6 separate regions of the Homo sapiens genome follow, and all the other regions are reported to be linked to region 1. Evidence: microRNA targets listed by miRTarBase, many of them from high-throughput screens and not tested one by one. Region 1 holds a microRNA gene; each other region holds the end of a gene's coding sequence.

The links. The annotated mature microRNA hsa-miR-99a-5p reads AACCCGUAGAUCCGAUCUUGUG and lies in region 1 at 2,923-2,944, opposite strand. An mRNA with a match to its seed (bases 2 to 7 or 8) in the 3' UTR can be bound and repressed. Matches are read on the target gene's strand: a 7mer-m8 pairs with bases 2 to 8, a 7mer-A1 pairs with bases 2 to 7 and ends in A, and an 8mer does both.
Region 2: miRTarBase lists ZNG1A as a target of hsa-miR-99a-5p. The part of its 3' UTR that is shown has no 7-base or 8-base seed match.
Region 3: the mRNA of NFU1 is a reported target of hsa-miR-99a-5p. The part of its 3' UTR that is shown has no 7-base or 8-base seed match.
Region 4: the mRNA of MYL2 is a reported target of hsa-miR-99a-5p. The part of its 3' UTR that is shown has no 7-base or 8-base seed match.
Region 5: the mRNA of TPPP3 is a reported target of hsa-miR-99a-5p. The part of its 3' UTR that is shown has no 7-base or 8-base seed match.
Region 6: miRTarBase lists GOLGA3 as a target of hsa-miR-99a-5p. Seed matches in the 3' UTR shown: 7mer-m8 at 172-178.

What each region holds. Positions count from the first base shown.
Region 1 is chr21:16,537,939-16,542,044 of GRCh38, reverse strand. MIR99A (microRNA 99a) reads right to left here and starts at 2,956; the gene lies at 2,876-2,956. All of the region lies in intron 6 of MIR99AHG (mir-99a-let-7c cluster host gene), which reads right to left. MIRLET7C (microRNA let-7c) reads right to left here and starts at 2,217; the gene lies at 2,134-2,217.
Region 2 is chr9:117,726-121,831 of GRCh38, forward strand. It overlaps ZNG1A (Zn regulated GTPase metalloprotein activator 1A), which reads right to left. Exons shown (of 15, transcript NM_018491.5): 15 at 3,112-3,848. The coding sequence ends at 3,742. It overlaps FOXD4 (forkhead box D4), which reads right to left and starts at 692. Exons shown (of 1, transcript NM_207305.5): 1 at 1-692. The coding sequence starts at 394. RefSeq lists an enhancer at 1-287.
Region 3 is chr2:69,392,938-69,397,043 of GRCh38, forward strand. NFU1 (NFU1 iron-sulfur cluster scaffold) reads right to left here. Exons shown (of 8, transcript NM_001002755.4): 8 at 3,189-3,353. The coding sequence ends at 3,309. Among named protein-coding and RNA genes, the nearest start is that of GFPT1, 7.8 kb to the left of the region's middle.
Region 4 is chr12:110,907,524-110,911,629 of GRCh38, forward strand. It overlaps MYL2 (myosin light chain 2), which reads right to left. Exons shown (of 7, transcript NM_000432.4): 7 at 3,322-3,652. The coding sequence ends at 3,554. It overlaps CCDC63 (coiled-coil domain containing 63), which reads left to right. Exons shown (of 12, transcript NM_152591.3): 12 at 1-12. Among named protein-coding and RNA genes, the nearest start is that of MYL2, 11 kb to the right of the region's middle.
Region 5 is chr16:67,386,933-67,391,038 of GRCh38, forward strand. It overlaps TPPP3 (tubulin polymerization promoting protein family member 3), which reads right to left. Exons shown (of 4, transcript NM_015964.4): 2 at 3,992-4,106; 3 at 3,547-3,700; 4 at 2,877-3,430. The coding sequence ends at 3,242. It also overlaps the pseudogene RNU1-123P. Among named protein-coding and RNA genes, the nearest start is that of TPPP3, 4.5 kb to the right of the region's middle.
Region 6 is chr12:132,769,386-132,773,385 of GRCh38, forward strand. It overlaps GOLGA3 (golgin A3), which reads right to left. Exons shown (of 24, transcript NM_001389683.1): 24 at 1-3,909. The coding sequence ends at 3,720. Among named protein-coding and RNA genes, the nearest start is that of ANKLE2, 9.6 kb to the left of the region's middle. RefSeq lists enhancers at 156-325, 2,417-2,616 and a cis regulatory region at 241.

The sequences.
Region 1 (4,106 bases):
ACATAATGAATCATAGAGACATCTTCACCATTCTTCAATTATTCTTCTATTATACTCATTCACTTTAGGTGATAGTATATAAAAGAGGCTGTAATTCTAACAATTCATTATAGTACTTTTGTAAGATTATCCTTAAACTGCACATCTTACTTGACCTCTGTGAGGCACTTAACTCCATTACACTGTAAGGAAATAGACATTTATTGGCAATCATATTCTATTTGGCCCATCAATAGATTTGGCTTCTAAATAAATACACCTAGTATTGGGAGATACATACATAGAAACACATAGGAAAGGGATCCTAGGCTCTCAAGGAAAAAACTATTTATAAAGATACAATTGTTTACCCATTTAGTTGTCCCTTTCTTTCATCCGTGGGTTGAACTGCCATCATTAGACACAATGGTGTTCCTATTTGCTATGAGTCACTTTCCTTTTCATCTCTTCATGTCTTTTTGTTTGTTTGTTTTAGGTCTATGTCTACTGCCTCTTATTCATTGCTTCTTGATTAGTCCTTGCAAATATTTTTCTTTCACAGAGAGAAAGAGTCTTTACTACTGTAGACCAATCAAATTATTTTGCTTGAAGTGACTGGTATTCACTTTCTAAGGCTCACATGTTCTACGTGTTGGGGGTAGCCATTCCTTCTTCACTACATTGTTAGCAAGTTCTAGGTATTAAGATATTTTGGATGCCTGAGCATTCTAGAAAGGTCAGCACCACATAGCCAGTATCTTGAGGTCCTTAATATATATTTGCATCTAAACGTCTCTTTAATGAATTCCATGTTTCATATTTGGAGTCTTAAATTAAAGTTCTAACATCAACAACTACTTAATCCTGTGTCTGAAAGATGATCTATGTAAGATAGCCTCACTACACAAATTACACCACTAACAGCTGCTAAAGTTGACAGCAAACTAAGGTTCCAAAGAGTCCCATTTGCTTTGTAACACAAAGAATATTATAAAGTGCCTTTCCTTTAAACAAAAATGTGTTCACATTCTCAAATTATACTTTATATACATATTTATTATTAATTTATTGACATGTTTCTGGTTTAGTTGCTTCTGGTTTATTCAACAGATATAGCTGTACAAAAATAAAGGGCAGGAGACGAGGGAAATACACAAAAGACACAAATCTAATTTTTAAAAATCATATTGTTAAATGAGACTTAAAATAGAATATTTAGTTGAAATTGATGCTAAAAGAAAAACGATTCATCTGGAAAGAAAGGTATTTAAATTCAACAGAAATATGAATTATCTAAGTGTAGGATCATAAACTGTCATGAACTAATTAGTAAAAATGAATTTACTCTATTATTTTTATTCTAGATAAAAAGTACTTCTAAATTTTAACTTATCTGTTTAGAATGAATGAACACATTCAACACAGTCAAAAATCGACACATGTATTACTGATGCGGAGCAGTCCAGGAATTAAATTTAAACAGTTTTAGGAGCAATAAATAAAACTCAGATGTTTGACCACTGCCATAACTCATTCAAATATTCAATAGAAACTCATCACAGAGTGAGGTCTTACACTCCATTCACTAATCCAATAAATAGTTAGTGCTCATTATGAGTAAGGCATTGGAGGGGATACAGTGAAAAATAAAACATGGACTTTGCCCTCAAGGGGCTTACAGTCTAGTGCGGAAAAAATCAGCAAGCACATAAATAGCCATAACATAAGGTAGAAAGTGATGTGTCATAAGGAAAACGCAAATAATGTGCTATGGGAGCTATTAACTCTAGCAGACATTTTTTATTATAGTGTCTAAGCAGCCAATATAAATAGACCAATGATCCATTTGAAAATTAAGGTCTGAATTTTGTTAATCTATAGATGATAAAAAGCTTTAATATTAATGCAATTTAAGTCACTACCTACAATTTTCTTAAAATGTTTGAACATGGAGTGACAACCCATTAGAAATACCATTTTGACATTGTTCATAAGCAGATACAAATGGAATAATCTAATAGGGCTGAAATGATCATTTTAATGTAATAAAGGCCCAAATCAATGATCCAAGATACTCATGACACATTACCTTCTTGCACACAAATTGGCTCAATCAGGTTAAAGTGATGAAGAATTCCTCGACGGCTCAAGTGTGCTCCAAGGAAAGCTAGAAGGTTGTACAGTTAACTCCCAGGGTGTAACTCTAAACCATACAACCTACTACCTCAACCCGGATGCACACAGCTTCCAATGTTGCTTCAAACTCCTTATCATATCTTCAGTCAGCTCCTCCAAATATGGCAGCCATACACCTAAGGGCTTGGCAAGGATATAGATATAATATTCTAACATTTTACCAGTAAACTTTGCTGCTAACTGTTTCTCATAGGACTAACCTAAACACTTGGGTTTCCAGCATAGGTCACGTAAAATGTCTTCTGACCATCTAACCTGCCATAGTTCTAGTCGCAATTAATAGTAAAAGTCAATTGCATTCAGCCTCATTTTTTCAGGAGAAATAGGCTCAATAAAAACATATAAATCCAATGGTAGTCTTTAATTTTCTTACTGAAGTTGAAGAGGTACACTAAGCACTACAGTATGCACTGAAGTTTCTGAACAGAATCTATTCAGATCCTGGTCCAAACCCTGCTATAAAGGTTCAACTTTCTTATGCAATTTACTGTACATGGAATCGAACTTGAATGGGTGTGATATAAACGCTTCCAAGTTGTTGAGAATTGAAGCCTGCCTTGTAAGACAGACAATGATTAAAATAAACATTAAAAACAAAGGAAAATATAATGACTTCAAAAGTATATAATCAACTGGAGTTTAACAGGATTTTACTGAACTATTGTTGAACGGCACTGTGTATAGCATTTTGTCAGATTACCACACTGACACAGACCCATAGAAGCGAGCTTGTGCGGTCCACTTCACCACAAGATCGGATCTACGGGTTTATGCCAATGGGCAACATCTTGCATGGGCCCCCTATTAATATAGAATTTGTTGTAAATATCTGATGCAATTAAGAGTCAAAAATAATATTGATCCTTTAGTATAAATGTTTTAAATGCTGAGTTCTAAGGATGCATATTCTCCATTAAAGGCCTTCATAAATATTCAAAACTAAATACAAATTTATATGCATGAGAATTTAAAAAGTAGTTTATTGAAAAATTTTTCACGAACTGCTTTTGTTTCAATAGTAAATATTTTGGAATTAAACTATTCTAATTGAGTTTTAAAAGAAAAAAGAATCCATACATGCATGTATGAATTATATAATTGTGAGGCATGAATGTAGTATTACGAGCCTATAATTAAAACCAAATTAACTATTAAGTTAATTGTGTATGAGTTAGACCGTGCTTATTTTAATTTTTATAAAACTAGTTTAGTTACTGGTTTCAAGGAATTGGTAACATTATAACTTTCTCATAAAACAGTAAGATCTTGTTCACTAGCTAGAGAATACAGGAAGTTATTATCAGCCTTAAATATATACATCTGTGTCTATAGTCGGAATGGTGCTAAAATTTACAATATTTGGATGAGTTAATATAAAACTAAACTAAATGGCACGATAATGGCATGATTACTAATACTCCACACTAACATTTATACTCCAGATGTATTACATGACATAGGATATCTTCTTTCCTAAATAAAATATATTTAAACTTATTGTTCAAAAAAGATACACTTAAAATGCATGGCTACATACAACTCTCATCTGGTCAACAGGTTGGGCAAAAATAAAATATTACTAAAAAATGTTTTAAACCACCAGACAACAAGCAAACACACAAACGAGTAAACATAAAGCCAGCCACATACACGTTTTTTTAAGATTGTAAACTCAACTGCAACAAAATGATAAGTTGTACAATCATTAATCATTTCACATCTATAATCACTTAGCATTTCCTAATTATATCTTTATTGTGTAAAATAATACTACATACTAATTGCTTAGTGATTTTGCATATTTTGAAATAAATACGTTTTATAGCCTTTATATAGATCATGTGTTCTACATAATTTTAAACCATTATTTATTCTTAAATTGTCCTCATAATTATTAAAAACTATAGTAAATAATCAACAATCATACATTC
Region 2 (4,106 bases), not on the chromosome of region 1:
CGCAGATGCCGCTGAGCGTGAGGCGCTTGTGCGGGCTTTGCAGGATGGCCATGGTGATGAGCGCGATGTACGAGGAGGGGGGCTTTGCCGGCTGCCGGGCATCTTCAGAGGCCGCCGCAGACCTTGGCGGTGCCCTGAACTCGGTGCCAAACTCTGAGGGGTCGCTCGGGCCGCCGCCGCCCTCGATGTGCTCTCGGGGAAGCGCAACCCCGCCCCACCGGGCCACCTGCAGCCCCGGCTGGAGCGACTGCTCTAGGAACTGCTGGCTCGCCGCCTCCTCCTCGTCTTCATCTTCCTCCTCTCCCAGGACATCGATTTTACCGTCTTCCCCATCGGAGTCCCGGAGGCTGCGCTGCGGTGTGGAGCGAAGGCGCTCAGCTCTTGGCAAGTTCATGGCGGAGCAGGTGCTTCAGTCGCAGGGGATGTGGCGGCCGGATCACCTGGCCCCGGCGGGCTGAGCTGGAAGCCCGGGATGAATGTTGCAAGAAGCAGGAACGCTAGTGGTTACCCTTTGGGATGTTTTCCTCTGCTTGTTTCTACGCCTTTGCAACAACGTCCGGCAAAGATGCCTTCGCCTTTTATAAAAGCTTCTTCAAGACCATGTGTGGTGGACGCCTCCCTTTATAACCCTTCTTCCCCTACCTCGGAGCGGTGCCACTTCCTCCTAACGTAGTCCAGGGATGATGGTCTTCTGGGCAAACACCGTCCGGAGAAAAGCCCAGCGCCCTCCTCCTCGCACCCACCTGCCACCAAGGAAGATGCTCTACTCATCCGGTGCAGCCAGACAGTAGGCAAGCCTTTGCACGGGTTCTGTTAAGGCGCATTTAAACCCGCGCAAATAAAAGCGAGGTAGGAAAGTAGGATACTCAACATTCTACGACCACCTCGACATGCAGCCTTCCCGCCTGGAGAAAAGAAATGGTGGGGTAGGAGGCTGAAATGTACACGGTTGTTTGTAAAGGAATGTGTAACCGTGAAAGTATGTTTTTGTGTTTCACAGCTGGTAATCACCCATTTTCATTGGTAGAGTCTGTCCTTACCCAGAATGGTGAGCTGAATTATATTTAAGGTTCTGACAATATTCCCAGGCTTCAGGGGGGTGTTGCTTTGCTCCTTCTACCTTCCTTCCCACCTCCCCAAGATGCTCTCCCTGACTCAAATTTTCAGAAAAGGTTCAAATGTCCCAGCACTAAATTGTGTAAGTTTATTCAGGGAAGGCAGGAGAGCTCACACGGAGTCCTCTGTCCCCTTGTAGCAATGGTTCTCCAATTTCTTTGAATATTTAACCACAGAAATACATTTTATATCACAATCTTACACATACAGACATAATACATAACTAAGATGGCTTTCACGAAACAATATACTTACACTATAGTGATCACTGATATTTCCTTTTAAAAAAAAATGGCCATAACCAACTAAATTGATTTCACACATACCAGTATGGGCCCAGTTTGAAAAATCCTGTTCTTACAAAGTGGCCCCACATACAAGAAATGCACCCACTCTATAAGGGCTTCTCTCTCTCCCTTTCCTCCTTCCTTTCTTCATCCTTTATAACCAATTCATTTTTAGAGACAGGGTCTATGTTGCGCAGGCTGGCTTTGAATTCCTGGGCTCAAGTGATCCTCCCGCCTCAGCCTCCTGAGTAGGTGGGACTACAGGCGTGCCACTATGCCTGGCTCTGGCTCTTCATTCTTTTTTTCCTTTTTTTTTTTTTTTTTTTGAGGCGGAGTCTCGCTCTGTCGCCCAGGCTGGAGTGCAGTGGCGGGATCTCGGCTCCCTGCAAGCTCCGCCTCCCGGGTTCACGCCATTCTCCTGCCTCAGCCTCCCAAGTAGCTGGGACCACAGGCGCCCGCCACCGCACCCGGCTAATTTTTTGTATTTTTAGTAGAGACGGGGTTTCACCGTGTTAGCCAGGATGGTCTCGATGTCCTGACCTCATGATCCGCCCGCCTCAGCCTCCCAAAGTGCTGGGATTACCGGCGTGAGCCACCACGCCCGGCCTCTTCATTCTTTCAGAAATGTCAACATTAAGTGCTTTTACTGTAATAAAACTTGGGACTTCAATGAGGCAAGAAGGGGCTGCAGTGTTGCCTTTAAATCAGTGGGTCCTCATTCACTGTCTGCACTGGGGAGGGGCAATATGACAGCACAACTGTTCATCTCACTCGCTCCACATCCTTAGAAGTAACACGATTTTTAGATTGGCTTCATGAAAATTAGCTCAGAGACTAAAGTAGCACTACAGAGGAATAAAAAAAATATTTGTTATATAAATAAGGATCTTATTAAAATACTAAGTAAGATACTATGCCACGGTATATATTCATAATTTAAAACCCACCTACTTGGGAAAACTTTGAGGTGCCATCTAATAAAAATGCAGCATGAAAGAATATTATGCCCTTGATAGTCACATAGTGTCTATAATTATGACAATGAATGTTCAGTGAGAAATCAAACGCCAACTGCAAGGGCAAAATATAATAAAAAATAGCTTAAAGTAGCTAGTGCCTTCAGGATAAAATCTGGAAAAGGGCTTTCTTGCTGATCTTTTTTTGAAACTTTGCTGCTCCTGAAGTTTTTACCCTTTAAGGCTCCTCAGTTTATATGAAGCTTGGAGGACAAATAACAGACAGGTTTGAGCCTAACAGATTTGTTTGAATCCCAAATTTACCAATGACTGCTTGTGTGACCTACTAAACTAAGCTCCAGGAGGGCCAGGCCAGGTGTCTTATTCAACCACAAAATCCCAGCGCCCCCAGCATGTGAGGCAAATTTCCTCCATCAGCATAGGAATCGGATGACCTGGGAAAGGGAGTATTGTTAGTTTTCCTAGCGCCAGCTTCAATAGGGATTGGGGTTATTTAAAAATACAGGAGAAAAGTAAGGAGGCACTCAAAAACAAAACACAAAACCCACATTGATGGGGGTATGTCAAAGGTGGGAACAGGAGATAACGGAAAGAGTTCCCAATGGTCAAAGCTGGGATAATTTGAGCAACAAAATAAAGCAGTATTAAATTGTAACCCAAAGTATAAAATATTCATGTGTCCACACTGATAAACATAAATGATCGAACTAATAAAGCGAAAGGGACAACTGTCCTTTGCAGAAGAATTTCAATTAATCATGTAGACCACTCCCAAGAAAGTACACTACAACTCCCCATTCCTTTAGTGTGGGCTGTGCATAGTGATTTCCTTCCAAAGAGCACAGTATGAAATGGGGGAAAAGAGTAACTTTACAATGGAGAAACCTGACAAACACTCCTTCAGCCAGGTGATCAGGTCGTCAACATCAACATCAATAACAGTCATAACCTTTTATTTCATGTCATAAAATGGTGACACTTACTTGTGTTAAAAAAATTTAATAACAATGTAATCATTATATCTCTGCAATCAGCTGAAGTTCTAAGAAAAAATGACAATGTTGAAAGTTGTATCATCATTATTATAAACTTTCATGTTCAGTATATGTAAACTCCAAAGCCAATTTCAAAAGATATTTTTGTGAAATACCATTCTTTAAAAAAAAGGATATTATATATAACTGTATGAATGTTAAATGTTTTACAGTACTGATTTGCTACATTTTATGTATGCTGTAAAACAAATACCATTTTAAAGTATATTGGAATTCGTAACTAAAGTAATAAATAAATGCTTGAAATATACCCAGTAGAAACTTATTTTTATTATCCAATCCTTTTGATAAGAAATGCCTCTAGTGTTATGTACAAACTTGATCTTCTTGGAAACGTGTTGTCCACTGCTTTTCTGTTTCTGTCACAGTAGCTATAAACAGCTGTTTAAGGATATCCTTATCTAAATTTCTGCCTGCAAACAAAACAAAATATGACGTGATTACATTATGCTTATTAAAATGACACAGTTCACCTATCAATTCCAGTTCATTAAATGCTTTATGGTGTTTAGAAATTTACAAAAAGAATAGTAATTGAGTGATTCCATCTTTAACTTTCCAGGTCAGTACATCAAAGTCACATTGGTCCTTGGATTAACCACTTTTCTAAAACTGAAGAAGAACAAAAGTCCTAACAAGCTTTTACGAACGTTGTAACGTGATAAAGATGA
Region 3 (4,106 bases), not on the chromosome of region 1:
TTGTTGTTGTTGTTTTTGTTGTTTGACATGGCGTCTTGCTCTGTCACCGAGGCTGGAGTGCAGTTGCGTGATCTCGGCTCACTGCCACCTCTGCCTCCTGGGTTCCAGCGGTTCTCCTGCCTCTGCCTCCCGAGTATCTGGGATTACAGGCGCCCACCACCATGCCCAGCTAATTTTTGTATTTTTTTAGTAGAGACAGGGTTTTACCATGTTGGCCAGACTGGTCTCGAACTCCTGACCTCAGGTGATCCACCCGCCTCAGCCTCCCAAAGTGCTGGAATTACAGGTGTGAGCCACCGCGGCCGGCCTGTTTTCATTTTAAGGTTGACATTTGGCAGTTTACCACAAATGAAAAATCGGTAAAAGTATTTACCAAGTCCTCCATCATTTACCAGTCTCTCAGAATGCAATCAGCTTCAAGTTACAGAATACCTGATAACAATAGCTAAAACAAGAAAAACATTTATCTCACATCATATAAACTCTGAAAGTGAGTAATTCTTAGTCTGGCCAAAAGGCCAACAATGCCTCAAGGATCCAGACCCTTTTTTTTTTTTTCCTGAGACAGAGTCTTGCTGTCGCCCATGGTGGAGTGCAGTGATGTGATCTCGGCTCACTGCAACCTCCACCTTCCAGGCTCAAGTGATTCTCAAGCCTCAGACTCCCTAGTAGCTGGGACTACTAGGTGGCATGTGCCACTGCACCAGGCTAATTTTTGTGTTTTTAAGTAGAGATGGGGTTTCACCATGGTGGCCACACTGGTCTCAAACCCTTGGCCTCAAGTGATCTACCCGCCTGGGTGTCCCAAAGTGGTGGGATTACAGGTGTGAGCCACCGTGCAAGGCCAAGGATCCAGACCCTTTCTTTGCTCTTTGCTATTCTCAGTGGACCACCTTTTAGTCATGATTACAAGTTGACTGTCATTGCTTTGAACATCACACTCTACAGTGTACCAAGCAGGAAGAAAAGGAATGGATGGAGGAAAAAAAAAAGAGCCTTCTTTCCAGAGATTAACTCACATACACACTCTCTTAACTAGGAAAGACAATCTTTCCAGAATTCTCCAATAGACTTTCTCTTCCAGTTTACTGGCCAGAGCTAGGTCATATGGCTACCCACAGACTAATGACTGGAAAAGAAAAATGGAGTTAAAGTGACTGGTTTAATCATAACTATCCCCTGGGACTGAGGTGAGACCTACTGAGAGTGCCTTCCTTAACAAGAAGTGAGGGTGTATGTTGGGTAGGCAACCAAGAGTTTCTGTGGCACTCTCTATACTACCACTGCCTACTCATGCACCATTTTCACTTTATACTCAAGCCATACTTAGTTTCTTGAGGTTCCCAAATACATTTCACACTTACAATTCTGATTATACTGTTCTTATGCCTAGAATGTTCTTCCCACACCTTTCCTCCTTGTTCTTCATGGCTGTTGCTTTTGTAGAAAATCTTTCCTCTCTTCCTCTTTGGCCTCTCAATTGAATAATTTCCTGTTTTTTTGTTTGTTTGTTTGAGACAGACTCTCGCTCTGTCACCCAGGTTGGAGTGCAATGGCACGATCCCAGCTCACTGCAACCTCCGCCTCCCAGGTTCAAGGGATTTTCGTGCCTCATCCTCCTGAGTAGCTGGGATTACAGGCACATGCCACCTTGCCTGGCTAATTGTTGTATTTTTAGTAGAGACAAGGTTTCACCATTGGCCAGGCTGGTCTCGAATTCCTTACCTCAAGTGATCCACCCACCTCAGCCTCCCAAAGTGTTGGGATTACAGGCATGAGCCACTGCGCCAGGCCAATTTCCTCTCTTCTAATAAACTAATCCTCCATCCAATTCAGCCACTTATTTCATGGCCACATACAAGATCTGCCATTACTGGCATCTCATCCACGATGTCAATTTCCTGTAGCTTCAACTAAAGGGCAGGTTAAGTTGCCTTGCTTATGAAGCAATTCCCAGTGTCTAAATTAAATTCATACATGATATCTCAAGGAATGAATTCTCCAACCCTACTATTTGGTTCAGTGAACCAAAGGATAAAAGTAAAAACTTCAATTCCCAGCACTCACAACTGCTAGAGTTCTTCCTGTTTCCATCACTATCTTAATCTCCTTAATTTGAGGGACTAGAATTCCAGAGATGCAATGCATCACAACTATTTTTCCCATCTTTCCTTTCCCTGTATTTTCTGTTAACTGCAGTCTCTGAATTACTGTAGAAAAATGAGAGAGGAGGCTAAATCACTCTTTTGGCTACCTGAAAAAGCAGTACCCCTAGAGTACAAAAATAATGATGCACACTTCTGGCATGGTACAGATTTTGGATCTCTGAGTCAGAAGCCAGTGGGAGGACCAAAGCAGCTTCTTCTCTTTTCTTCAGCAATTCTGATTGATAAGGTAAAGGCTGGGCATGCTGAGGCAGTTTTTCTAATTTGGCCATCTCCATCTTAACCAATAGAAACTGTGTCCAGATTCTGGGAGTTAGTTTTCAAGTTTTTCACCTTTTTTTTTTTTTTTTTTTTTTTTTTTTTTGAGATGGAGTCTCGCTCCGTCCCCCAGGCTGGAGTGCAGTGGCGTGATCTCAGCTCACTGCCACCTCCGCCTCCCGGGTTCAAGCAGTTCTCCTGCCTCAGCCTCCTAAGTAGCTGGGATTACAGGCGCGTGCCTCCGCGCCCGGCTAATTTTTGTATTTTTAGTGGAGACGGGGTTTCACCATGTTGTTCAGGCTGGTCTCAAACTCCTGACCTCGTGATCTGCCCACCTCGGCCTCCCAAAGTGCTGGGATTATAGGCGTTAGCCACCATACCCGGACATTTTTGATTTCTTTTTTTTGGTCTTAAGCAGTTCTTTGCTACTTAATTGGGGGCTAGTAGCCAGATACCATTTTTAAAACAGACTTGTTTAGCTGTTTCTTAAGCTAAAAACTTCAGTAAAAATAGTTTTAGATATTTCACAAAAAGCTATTTTAGAATATTCTAAAAAGCATTCTGTTTCTTCCTGTATGGAAAAAAGTAAATAAATTAGATGGGGGGAAATGTATTTTAAACTCCTTCACACATATGCAAAGAAAGAGCCATGGGAAATGAGGGACAAAAATAAAAATATCCTTGGATAAAATCCACGTGTACAGAAGATGATTCAAGAGGTTATAAATAACTCATATGAGGTAAAGCAAACATGCAATATTTATATATCATTCTCTGAAGAGCATATTTTATTAATCTTCAAGTTCCTCAGCATATTAATAATAAAAACTTGATATATATTATCAACAAGTCTGACTGTTATGCCCAAAGAAAATCCAGATTATTTTAAGGTGAGTTTGCTTCTTTTTCATCTGATTCATCATCCATAACCTAAAACCAAAAAACAAAGACAATTTAAGAATTAAGAAAATGATTAGATTTTGCTGTTTTCCTGATTTTAATATTACTTCTTTACCTGATACACTCTATAATGAGGCATGACAAGCCAGTAAGAATAAATCTATCAACAGCCCCAAAGAACAAGGTTTGAATCATAACCCGGTATCCTAAAAACATAAAAGCAACCCCATCTCTACTGAAAATACAAAAAATTAGCCAGGCGGGCGCCTGTAGTCCCAGCTACTCGGGAGGCTGAGGCAGGAGGATGGCGTGAACCTGGGAAGCAGAGCTTGCAGTGAGCCGAGATCGCGCCACTGCACTCCAGCGTGGGCAACACAGCGAGACTCTGTCTCAAAAAAAAAATAAAATAAAATAAAAGCAAATTAAATATTTGGAAATTAATTAAAGCATTGATCACTTCTCCTTGTCTCAAAGAGGCTACCCATAGCAGAGTCTCAGCTGGGCAGAAAAGACTATAAATAATTAACTGGGGCCAGGCGCGGTGGCTCACGCCTGTAATCCCAGCACTTTGGGAGGCTGAGGCAGGCAGATCATGAGGGCAGAAGATCAAGACCATCCTGGCTAACACAGTGAAACCCCGTCTCTACTAAAAATACAAAAAATTAGCCGGTCGTGGTGGTGGGCGCCTGTAGTCCCAGGTACCCGGGAGACTAAGGCAGGAGAATGGCATGAACTGGGGAGGTGGAGGTTGCAGTGAGCCTAGTGCCTGGTGATAGAGCACTC
Region 4 (4,106 bases), not on the chromosome of region 1:
TTTTGTTCTGTAGCCTCGTGCCTGTCACACACATTACTAAGGGCTTTGGGTACTGGGGCCACCTCTGGGCTGGGGCCGAGGAGCGAGAAGTAAAAGCGGGAACAGGGAGTGGGAACCATGTGAGTCCATCAAGGCCCCTGGAAACCTCTGAGCTGGAGACCAGCACAGGCCACCCCCAGATATGCAGAGACATGGATGCAGATGCGGTCCACCAGATGTAACAGGGACTAGCCCGGGGGAGGGGCCATGCTGGAGCCAAAGTGTGGATCCTGAGACGCCCCTGGCCACCCGAGGTGTGGCAAACACTCACAAATGGGAAGTGGGAGCTGGGGGCGTGCTGGATCTGCTACTCTGGGTGTGTCTGTGTACATGTGTGTATATCTGTGTTTCTGAGTGTCTGTGTCTCTGTGTGTTTGTATCTATGTGTCTGTATATATGTCTGTGTATATCTCTTTGTGTATCTGAGTGTGTCTCTGTGTCTGTGTGTCCATGTATGTGTGTACCCGTGTGTGTCTCAGTATCTGTGTGCATCTCCATATGTCTCTGTGTCTCTGTTTCTGTGTGTCTCTGCGTGTCTGCACCGGTGTGTGTCTCTGTATATCTCTGTGTCCGTGTGTGTCTCTGCATGTCTGTATCTGCGTGCATCTCCGTATGTCTCTGTGTCTCTGTCTCTGTGTGTCTCTGCATGTCTGCACCTGTGTATGTCTCTGTGTGTCCCTGTCTATGTGTCTCTGTATGTTTCTGTGGCTCTCTCTGTGTGTGTCTCTGTGTGTCCCTATCTGTGTGTCTCTGTGTGTGTCTCTGTATGTTTCTGTGTCTCTCTCTCTGTGTGTCTCTGCATGTCTGTATCTGTGTGCATCTCTGTGTCTCTGTGTGTGTCTCTGTATGTCTCTGTGTGTCCCTGTCTGTGTGTCTCTGCGTGTCTGTATCTGTGTGTGTCTCTGTATCTCTGTGTGCATCTCTGTATGTCCCTGTGTCTCTGTCTCTGTGTGTTCTGTATGTCTCTGCAAGTCTGTACCTGTTCTTGGGATTCTCTTTTTTTTTTTTTTTGAGCCGGAGTTTGGCTCTGTTGCCCAGGCTGGAGTGATCTCAGCTCAGTGAGTGGTGTGATCTCAGCTCACTGTGTATCTGTGTGCATCTCTGTATCTCTCTGTGTGTCTCTGCATGTCTCTGTCTCTGCGTGTGTCTGTCGTGGGTGAGCATGTCACTGTGGAGCTGAGTCCAGGGTGTCTTGCCCAGAACCACGCACTGCCCTGGAGTGTCCTGAGTCCCGCCTTCTTGGTGCCGGACTGCATCTCTGACCACAGGAGCCCGGGTATGAGGCTCTCGGCCTGGACCAACTCTGGAGTGCAGGGAAGCCGTGAGGGGCGAGGGTCACCACAGGGTGTGGGGTGTCCTGGGTCATGGGGATGGGGCCATGACTCCCCTGGGTCCCTGCCCACGCAGCCTGCTTTGAAAGGGGCCCCAGGTCTCTGCAGCCAGGGGACAGTTTCATTCGTCTTGTTAATGGCTCAGCCCTGAGCTCCTCCCACTGTTGTCATTGTCAAGCCTTGAGGACTGGCCCTAACTGTGGCTCCTCTGGCCTCCTGGGTCCTCCTGCCTTCACTGTGACCCCAGCTCCACTCCGTCACCACATTTCAGCTTCTTCCCATCACATCACTGACTTGGGCTGTGTCCTGGGTTCTTGGGTTCTTAGGAGTCTCTCTCTCTCTCTCTCTTTTTTTTTTTTTTTCCGAGACGGAGTTTGGCTCTGTCGCCCAGGCTGGAGTGATCTCAGCTCAGTGAGTGGTGTGATCTCAGCTCACTGCAACCTCCACCTCCCGGGTTCAAGTGATTCTCTTGCCTCAGCCTACTGAGTAGCTGGGATTACAGGCATGTGCCACCATGCCTGGTTAATTTTTGTATTCTTAGTAGAGACGGGGTTTTGCCATTTTGGCCAGGCTGGTCTCGAACTCCTGACCTCAAGCCATCTGCCTGACTCGACCTCCCAAAGTGCTGGGAGGGTTCTTGGGATTCTCTTGAAAACTTGAAGTACCCGAAGTCCACTCCCTGCTTCTTCTTGGGTTTTCCTCTGGGGAATCTTCCCTCCCATCTCCAGGCCATATGGTTCAGGAGGACTCTGATTTCAACCCCAGCACAGGGCTGATCATTTGAGCCAGGCCTGTCCATCAGAGCACTGCCCTTGCCAGTCCATGGTGATTGGCTCAGGGGTGTCAAGTGCCCCAGAGGGATCCCACAAGGCCCTGTTCTGATGTTTGTGTGGAGCTGGAAGAGAGAGGAGTACGCTCTTCTAGGATTGCTGAGGGGCTGGAAAAGGGGCAGGAGCTGCTCTTAATTATTTTGCCACTGCTGAGAGCAGAGCAACGTGACAGAAAACAGAGGCCTCCCCAGCCTCTGAGGGCACTGCCTGGGCTCCTAGGTGCAATTGTGCTTGAAGCCCTTGGACTTCTTAGTTATTTGAACCTATTTCTGTTTTTTTTTTTTTTCCTTTTCTAAGAGACAGAGTCTTACTCTGCCACCCAGGCTGGAGTGCAGTTCACTGCAGCCTCGACCTCCTGGGCTCAAGCGATCTTCCCACTGCAGCCTCCTGGGTAGCTGAGACCACAGGTGCACACCACCATGCCTGGCTATTTATTTTTTATAGAGATTGGATCTCACTATGTTGCCTAGGCTGGTCTCAAACTTTTGGGCTCAAGTGATCCTCCTGCCTCAGCCTCTCAAAGCGCTAGCATCACAGGCGTGAGCCACCACACCTGGCCCTATTTGTTTCTTACACTGGGACTCTTGCAGCCATAACAGACCTGAATGCTTCAACCGTGACTGTGGTCATTCAAAATCAAAGGTCAACTCACATCCAGGCCTGGGCCCCAGACAGAGACAGAAGTCAGTACCACTCCCTCAGTTTGCTAGGGAAGAAGTACAGACAACTTCTACTTTATCTGAAACTAGAAGTCACCCTCTTAGGATTAGCAGGTGTGATTACTGTTGAACGAGCTATGTTCCTACCATGTGTCAGTCCGCTTCCTTCTTGTCACTGTCACTGGCAGGAGAGGCATTCCGATGGCATCCCAAGGGACAGATGTCATGGAAGCAAGGCCCTCTAAATGCTTGAGCTCTTTGGAAGAGAGGGCTTTGGTCATCCAGGTAACATTCCAGGAAAACGTGATCCTTGATAGAAACAGTTCTGAGTGGCTGCAAAGGTCTACCTTAAATAAAGAGTCACCAAGATTCAATAATAATGACTGCAAGGCTGTCACTAGCTCATCTGCCTTTGCCTTCCTTACACAAGGCACTGTTTGTCAGAGAAATGTCGTGACCAAATACACGACCTCCTGTTTATTGGAACATGGCCTCTGGATGGATTTCCAACTGTAGGATGTGCGGCCACGAAGTACCCATAGCCACCCAGGCTGCAAAGAAGATGGAGGTGGATAAATGGGGCAGCCACATGGCTAACAGACAAGGTAGGGACAGAGGCGGTACTCGGGGGAGAGAGATGAGGGCAGGGACCACTCTGCAAAGACGAGCCCAGGGCGCAGCAGCGAGCCCCCTCCTAGTCCTTCTCTTCTCCGTGGGTGATGATGTGCACCAGGTTCTTGTAGTCCAAGTTGCCAGTCACGTCAGGGGGGAAGGCGGCGAACATCTGGTCAACCTGCAATGAGCCAGCAACACGTGCTAAGGACGAGGGGAGGGGAACTGAGACGGAGGGTGGGGGGCTGTGGGCGGGGCCTGAGTGGACGGATAGCTGGGGGGTGGGGGATGGGAACATGGGCCACTCAGAGGGTCCTCCGGGGAAGGACTTCCCCAGCTGCTGCAGGGCCCCCTCGCCCAAGGTCATGCCCTTTCTGGGGCAGCCCACAGCCAGCGGATGGGATTGGTGTGGGGGTATAAAGGCACGGCCATCTCGCCCAACTTGGTACCTCTCAGGAGAGCTGTAGAATAAGCTCCCTCCCTGGGTAGTCAGCAGTGCCGATCTTTGGGCCTAAATCTTGGCTCAACTTCTTCCTTCATGCACTTTTCCTTCCTTGCCCTTCCCTGTTCTTCCTTTCTTGCCCTTCCCTGTTCTTCCTTCCCTGACCCCAAGGGCCCTCCCAAGTAAACATCAT
Region 5 (4,106 bases), not on the chromosome of region 1:
GGGAGCTAGAGCGAGCTTGTGCTCTGTGGAAATGTCAGTAAGAGCAGCCTCCCTGCACCCCCGCTGCCTCTTTCCTGGGCCTGTCTTTGTCTCCCAGGTAGGGGAGCATCAGCCAGTGGCCTTGCATCCCTGAGTTGTTATATTTCAGGGTCTCAGCCCAGTGCACAGGCCAACCTAATGGACACACCAGGGGGCAGGGAGGAATAATGCACTGCTTTCCTCCAACCCAGCCCTTCCTGCCTCCTCCATGAACACCTGATGGTGCTAGCCCCAGAATCCACTCAGGACACCTCCTAAGGGGAACAAAGAGCCTGGCCCAGTGTGTGCCACCCTCCACCCCATTTGCCATTGTCATTGAAAGTGACCGACCCTGCCCCAGGCCAGGCACCTGCTAGGTTTGCTGGCCACTCCTGGGGAAGTCATCTGTTTCTGATTTTTCCCTGTATGGCACTTGTTCTACAGGGCACGGGTAGGGGTTGCGATGTTAAGGAGAGAGCCAAAGAGCTCAGGGCAAACTGGACTCAACATGGAAAGCGGAGGACCCTTTAAACAAGCAGAAAACACGTGGAGCAGAATCCCACACCCTAGGCCTGGCACTACCACCAGAAAGCAGGACAGGTCTGGGATGGAGACTGGTCCTCAGGGAGGTTCTATGTCCAGAGGGAGGGGCAGAGCCACTCTTAGGTTGGGAGTTCTCCCAGCCATACAGAGCAGGTTTTAAAGGCTCTGTCCCTCTGATCCTAACCTCTCCTTTGTCTAACCTGATTTTGCTAGCAAGGGTATCCAAAGCTTTCAACCACAAGGAGGCTGTTAGGGGAGGGGCAGTGGCATTGCTGGGCAATGGCTGTCATGTGCCAGATTCTGCTAGACCCGTCTGGTCTTAGGGTCCTCCCAGCCCTGAGTGGGCCTTAAATTCCCTCGGGCTTCATAACGGCATTTCGAGAAGAGGCGGCTTTACTCCTATGACGTGGGGTTTTGGGGCTCAGCCATTCTCTCTGTGTTCTTCCAAGCCATACTGCCAGTCACAGGAATGGAGAAGCCGCTGGGCCCTCTACCATTGGATGGTACTGTCACCTGCAGTGGAATAGTGGGAGCCTGGCCCAATTTGGAACACAGTTAAATTTGTTTCCCTGTGAGGCTGTTCTGGTGAAAGCCAGAGGATTTGGGTTTCACTCCTATTATGTTCATTTTAAGCTTGCAATTCAAACGAATTTTCCAGGGCTAGAGGAATTGTTCCTCTGCATTTTTTTTTTTTCATTAAACGCCTTGCATTCTACCTCTTAACATTTGCTGGTGGGAGGATCTGCCTGAAGGTCCCTGAAGCTCTTCCCTGGGCCACTCAAGGAGACGCGGTCAGCTGGGTCAGGAGGAGCCGCGCTGTGAGGCAAGGCTCTGCTGTGGCCAGGTGCCCACCTGCTGCCTGCCGATTCCCGCCTGACATCCCTGTCTCAAGCCATACTATTCCGCTACACCCCTGTCCCCAAGGAAAGCTGGGCTTAAGGGATGTGGGGCCACCTGGGCAGGAGCATCCCCCAATAGACTGTGGGATGAGAGGATAAACAATGGTGCTGCTTTGTCTTGTGATCTGGGTCAGGAAAGCAGGCATTTGGGAACTGGCCCTTTTATACCTTTTCTAGCCCCTTTGGGAGCCACCCTCTCCTGGGTAGGCCCTAAAGTCCCATCCAGCCCCATTTTCACAGCAAGGAAGGAAGGAGAGGTAGCCCGAAAGCCTTGGCTTGGGAATAGCTCTGTCAAAACACCCAGAGCCTCAGTGAGATGATCTGGAAACGCCCAGGCATCCTCAGGACCAGAGAGGCTCCCTTCCCCCACTAGGGATGTGGAACAGATGGGAGGACATCAAAGAGGAGGCCCCTTTACTGAGGGATGCCCTGCTCCCACCACAGGCTAGTGTTGGGTGCCAAGCCCTATCACCAGTCAGCCAGTCCCAGTTTTGGAAGTCAATGCTGGGGCTTGCTAGAAAGAGCCTGGCCTGGGAGGCAAGAGGCATGGTCTGGCCTCTAGTCTGCAGAAGCCCCTCCACCTCTCTGGATGTTTCCTCAGCTATAAAATTACGGAGTCAGATGAGCTACTCTCTTTTTTTTTTTTTTTTTTTTTTTTTTTTTTTGAGACAAAGTGTCTGTTGCCCACACTGGAGTGCAGTGGCGTGATCTCGGCTCACAGCAACCTCCAACTCCTGGATTCAAGCGATTCTCCTGCCTCAGTCTCCTGAGTAGCTGGGAGGGACTACAGGCACGCAACACCATGCCCAGCCAATTTTTGTATTTTTAATCGAGACGGGGTATCACTATGTTGGTCAGGCTGGTCTTGAACTCCTGACCTCATGATCCACCCGCCTCAGCCTCCCAAAGTGCTGGGATTACAGGCGTGAGCCACCGCGCCCGGCCTGGATGAGCTACTCTCTAAGGTTCTGCCTGGCCCTGCGTTTTCTGTATTCTGAGCCAGAACCCAAAATGACTTGCCTCGGTAGCCCCTGTTCGCAGACTGAAAGCTGATGCCTGGCTCTGGGGCCTCTGCCAATGCTTGGCCCAGGCTGAGTCGGCTGTTTCATCCCTCCTACTGCTGTGAAAGTGGAGAGGGGGCCAACTCTCCAAACCCAAGGCACTGGTCACAGGAAGGCAAGCTTTGATGTCAGGACTCCCGTCAGGCCCAGCTAAAAGGCTTTGGACTTCCCCAGGAGTCTCCTCAGACAGAATGGCTCTGTGCTAACAGAAGGGGACTCATGAGTGCCTTTTTCTGGGCAAGGCTGCCAGGGGAAGGGGAGTGATTAGCAGTGTGTGGCATGCAGCGGGGTGATGACACTGAGGGGGTCACTGGAGTGTGAATGTCATTCCCCCATCATCGTCAACCAGGCCATATTGGTACAAAAGGTGTCTTTATTGAGGTCTGGGTTAAAATTAGGCACTTGGCCAGAGCAGCAGCTTAAATATGAGGCAAGCAGTCAGGGGTTAGCCATGCCTGGGGCTGGGTTGGGGTCATGAGGCTACAGGCACAGACTGTCCCCAGGTGGACAGAAGTTGGAGCAGGAAGAGGAGGAGGAAGGGGCCGCAGAGCAGCCTGGGTCAGAGGCCTGGTGGGCCAGCCCAGTGGGACTAGGCAGGAAGCTCTGGGTGGCAGGTCCAGCAGGGAGGGGACCAGGATCTCTTGCTCCACGTGCCCCTTAGACCCAGGCCTGAGCCTCTGGCAGGGGCAGCCGCACTTGGCAGGGCGGTCTTCCCAAGCCTCACTTCTTCACCTTGGCATCGTAGGTGCCTGCATTCTTGTAGGCGCTCACGTAGCCACTGTCGTCCAGGATGTCCTGCCGTCCCGCAATGCCCTTGCCCTTGCCGCTCTCATCGAAGCGCTCCTTGTGGGAGCCCGTGTATCTGCTGGTGTCCGTCAGCCGGTCTACAGCACCCCCTGTTTTTGCTTTCTGTTTGGACAGAGTTTCCCCAGGGGCACCTGATGAGGGAGCCCAGCCCTTCCCACCCACAGCCACGATTCCCCACACCCCATTCCGTGGCCACCCGAGACCAGCAGGGCACTTACAGTGACGCCCACATTGGCTGGCTCTTTGCCTGCCACCAGCTGGCAGATGGCATCGAAGGCCTCCTCCTTGCTCTTCCCCTTGAATCTCTTGGTCGCCAGCTCTTCCAGGGCCTTCTTGAACTCCTCATAGTTGATGACCCGAGCAGACTTCCCCCTGACAGGCATGTGGGCACCATGAGGGTTCCCCTTTCTTTTTTCTCCCCCAGGGGAAAGCTCAAACACATTTGCTGCCACCACAAATTATGCAATTGCGTTTCTTTCCCACGTTTGGGGAAGTCGCAGGGGTCAGCAACTCTGGAGGGCAATAGATATAAGGTTTGCCCTGGAAGAACGACCTTCGTGATCATGGTGTTTCCCTGACCCCTTCTTGATGTCCTCCCTGGTTCCAGCCCCCCAGTTCCCCACCTCCTGGGAACATGAGAAGCAGGGGCTGCTTAGGGCTCACTTGACTTTGGAGAAGACGATGTCCACATCGGTCCCTGTCACGGACTTTCCGTCAGCCACCTTGCAGTCCTTGCACAGCTTGGCCCAGTTCTTGCCATTCATCTCTTGCCCACTGG
Region 6 (4,000 bases), not on the chromosome of region 1:
CCCTGCACCAAGGAGAGTTGAGGGCCAGCTCCTTAGCGCAGCACAGCACGGACTGTGTTCTGGTGGGCAGGGCCCCTGCTGGACCCACCCGAGGAGAGTCCATTTCACATCCTATCAGAAACACTGCCTGATCCATATTGCAGAGAGTGGGAACGGGTGTGAGTCCGTAAGACCCGTAGCATCAATCTCACATATACCACGGAAAAACACATGAAAACCAAGTTACGTTGTTTTTGGAACATCAGAAAAACAAGTAGTGACATCGTGAAGTGCCCTAGCCTGTTGTGACACACGGTGTGGGGATGAACACGCCGCCCTAGCCCGTGACACACGGCGTGGGGATGAACACGCCACATAATGCACTGGTGACCCTGTTTTGTAAGCAGTACTCCCAACTTCACTGCCTTTTCCGTGAGGATATTCCATCATTCCCACTTCTGCCCACAAGAACAAAATAATTCAAACTTTATGCACTGAAGTAACTCTGGAAGGTAGAAGTGCCGGGAGAGTCCCTTGGAGATAAAAAAACCTCAACAATAAAAAAAAGCAATTTAAAAATCCAACTGCAGCCGGGGGCGGTGGTTCACGCCTATAATTCCAGCACTTTGGGAGGCTGAGGCTCAGGATCACCTGAGGTCAAGAGTTCAAGACCAGCCTGGCCAACATGGTGGAACTCCACCCCTCTAAAAATACAAAAATTAGGCTGGTGTGGTGGCGGGCACCTGTAATCCCAGCTACTGGGGAGAATGAGGCAGGAGAATCGCTTGAACCCAGATGGCGGAGCTTGCAGTGAGCAGAGATCACGCCACTGCACTCCAGCCTGGGCGACAGAGCGAGACTCTGTCTCAAAAAAAAAAAAAAAAAATTCCAACTTCCTCTTTTAGGCGTCTTCTTAAGGAAGGAAGTGTCCGCGTGAACACGAGAGGCCTCAGATCCAGAAGCACAAGCCGTGCATGAAAACACCAAAAGACTCACTGCAGGGAGCAAAGGCAGCCAGGCCCTGCCAAACCAGAGGGGGCCCTGGCACCGGCGACCACAGAGCGCTGGGGGAGGCATCGCACCCAAGGGCACACACGCAGGAAAACCGGGGTGAGAACATAGAGCTACTTTTCCTTCGGTATTTTCAGAATTAGTCTGTCCTAAGAGAAAAAAAAATACATGGTGAACATCACTCACTTGAGGACTTCCCATAAGCAAGGAGAAGTCGCTCCCCACTGAATGTGTGATTTCTCGATTTTAGATTTTTTAAAATCATTTATTTATTTTTGAGACGGAGTCTCGCTCTGTTGCCCAGGCTGGAGGGCAGTGGCGCGATCTCGGCTCACTGCAAGCTCCGCCTCCTGGGTTCAAGTGATTCTCCTGCCTCAGCCTCCCAAGTAGCTGGGATTATAGGTGCGCACTACGACACCCGGCTAATTTTTGTATGTTTAGTAAAGACGGGGTTTTGCCATGTTGGCCAGGATGGTCTGGACCTCTTGACCTCAGGTGATCCACCCGCCTCGGCCTCCCAAAGTGCTGGGATTACAGGCATGAGCCACCGCGCCCGGCCCGATTTCTTGATTTTAAAATTAAAACAAAGGGGTAGTACAGCCAAAATAAATAAGAACGTAAATTGCCGTATTTTTTTTTCTAATGGTACAAGAACAATTTAGTAAATAACATCTTCAACTTAAGATAAAAAGTAGGATATATTTATAATGAAATTTTCAAGTATTATTTCAAAATTAACCCTGTACAAATGATATATTTTGGAAATTCCAATATTTGCTAGAGAATATTTTTTAAATACCAAACATCTTTGTGGTTAATGCTACCTTAACCTTACCAATTAACCTTCTAAAAGTATATTACAACAGAACACAAATAGCTTAAAACACACCATACTGTTTTCTCCACAAAACAGACACCAGACACCGACATGAGCACATCTGGCCTGGCCAGTGACTCAGAACCTCATTTCAGACCAGTACATCTGCAGAGGAGGCCACGCGGACCCATTCTCTCTCTCCTAACTCATATAATAAATATTATTTTAGATTTTCTTAGCAAACTAGGGGACAACTTACAGACCCCACCTCTCCCAGTCAGCCAGTGTCTGCAGGGTTTCAGGATTTGGGGTAGGAAACAGAAGATCTCACACATGTCGTGCTGATTTTAAATAAGGCATCTGTCTCTGAGACACCTGGGAGAGCACAGCCACCTTCCTCACGGTGCCTGCCTGTCTCTTCCGGAAGTCGCCTCTGCTTGCCACATGATGCTGGTGTAACCACAAAAGATCCAGGACTTCTCGATGACTGCAGAAGTACAGGTGCTCCTACACACGAGTACAGGCGCTCCCACAGACAATGGTAAAGATTTTCACTTGGGGAACAGGAGTGTGAGGTTTGTTACCGCCTGCGACCTACACCTGGCTGACTCCAGGGGAAACCGCGGGAGTCGCTGCAGGGAGCCCCTGGTCTGCTCTCCTCCTCCTCCTCCACCGGCCTCTCCCTGTGCCCCCCCAAAGGTCAGATCAGATATGGGGCCTCAGTGTCCTTGTGCCTCCTGATGGCCGTCAGGCCTGACCAAGGGTCCAAGCTGCCCCTTCCCAGTGGCCAGCCACGGTGGAATCACACAGGGCCAGTGGCCTGAGAGGAAGAGACCAGCAGGAAGGAAAGATCCTCAGCAACAAAGTAAAACCAGAACAACAGAGGACCTTTCTGTGTAAGAATATTTGGCTTTAGAAGGTAAATAAAATAATTATATTTCTTAGAATTTTCTGACTATCCCTAAATCCTGCAGGTAAATTATTCCCAACAAATTTTCAAAAGGCAATCAATAATAAGTAGGTTCTTCTTCAATAACATGAGCATATGCTTCTTAAAGACTGGGTGACAGGCCGGGCGCAGGGGCTCACGCCTGTAATCCCAGCACTTTGGGAGGCTGAGATGGGCAGATCACTTGAGGTCAGGAGATCGAGACCATCCTGGCCAACATGGTGAAACCCCATTGCTACTAAAAATACAAACATTAGCCTGGCATAGTGGCGCACGCCTGTAATCCCAGCTACTCGAGAGGCTGAGGCAGGAGAATCGCATGAACCTGGGAGGCGGAGCTTGCAGTGAGCGGAGAGTGTGCCACTGCACTCCAGCCTGGGCAACAAAGCGAGACTCTGTCTCAAAAAAAAAAAAAAAAAAAAAACAAAGATTGGATTATGATATTCAGTATCTATGTACACATCCTATGGTGGGATGGCTATCCAAAAAAACAAGTAAAAAGCCAAAGGTACAGATAAAATTTCATTTCTGCGGAAAAGTAAAGCTCTTACTGAATGGAACAGGGAAGTGAGAAACTGCAGCCGGCCTGGCCAGGCGCGGTGCCGCAGACCCTGTCACACAGCTGCTCCCAGTTACGCAGCCTCTCCCTGTCACCCGCAGAGAGCAGCATCGGTGGCCGCTCAGAAGCCACGACCTACAAGTAACCCTTCAGACACGTTCAAAGCTCCTCGCCGAGAGCCTATCAGGCTTTTAAGAGTTGGTCATTCCATGTGAAAAGCTAATTGTGATCTTCGAATGTTTTTCTAGTCCTTGGCTCTCATTCTGCTATATATTTTACTTCTTGTTAAAGGCAAAACAAAACTTAAATTTCATGTCTTAGAAAAACATCGACCACACAATCAAATAAATAACATTGATAAGAGCCTTCTGGGGCAGCGGCGCACGGAGGCGAGTCCACAGCAGTCACTCTCCCGGCCCTTCTTTGGAAGCCCTGCTCTGACTGTGTCTCTGTGGGTCGCCGCGTGGGCCGGCGTGACCCCCCGGGGGCACAGGGCTGGCAGTGGCTGGCTCCAGCGGCGTCCACGAGGACAGAGACTCGTGCACCGTCAGGGCGTGCTCCTCCATCTGGCGCTGCAGGCTGTCCATCTCCTGCCTGGGACAGAAGAAGGAGGAAGAAGGCCCAGATCACACAAGTGCCAGGCAGAACGCGCCACCTGTGGACAGCGTCACTCGCTAGCACCTGA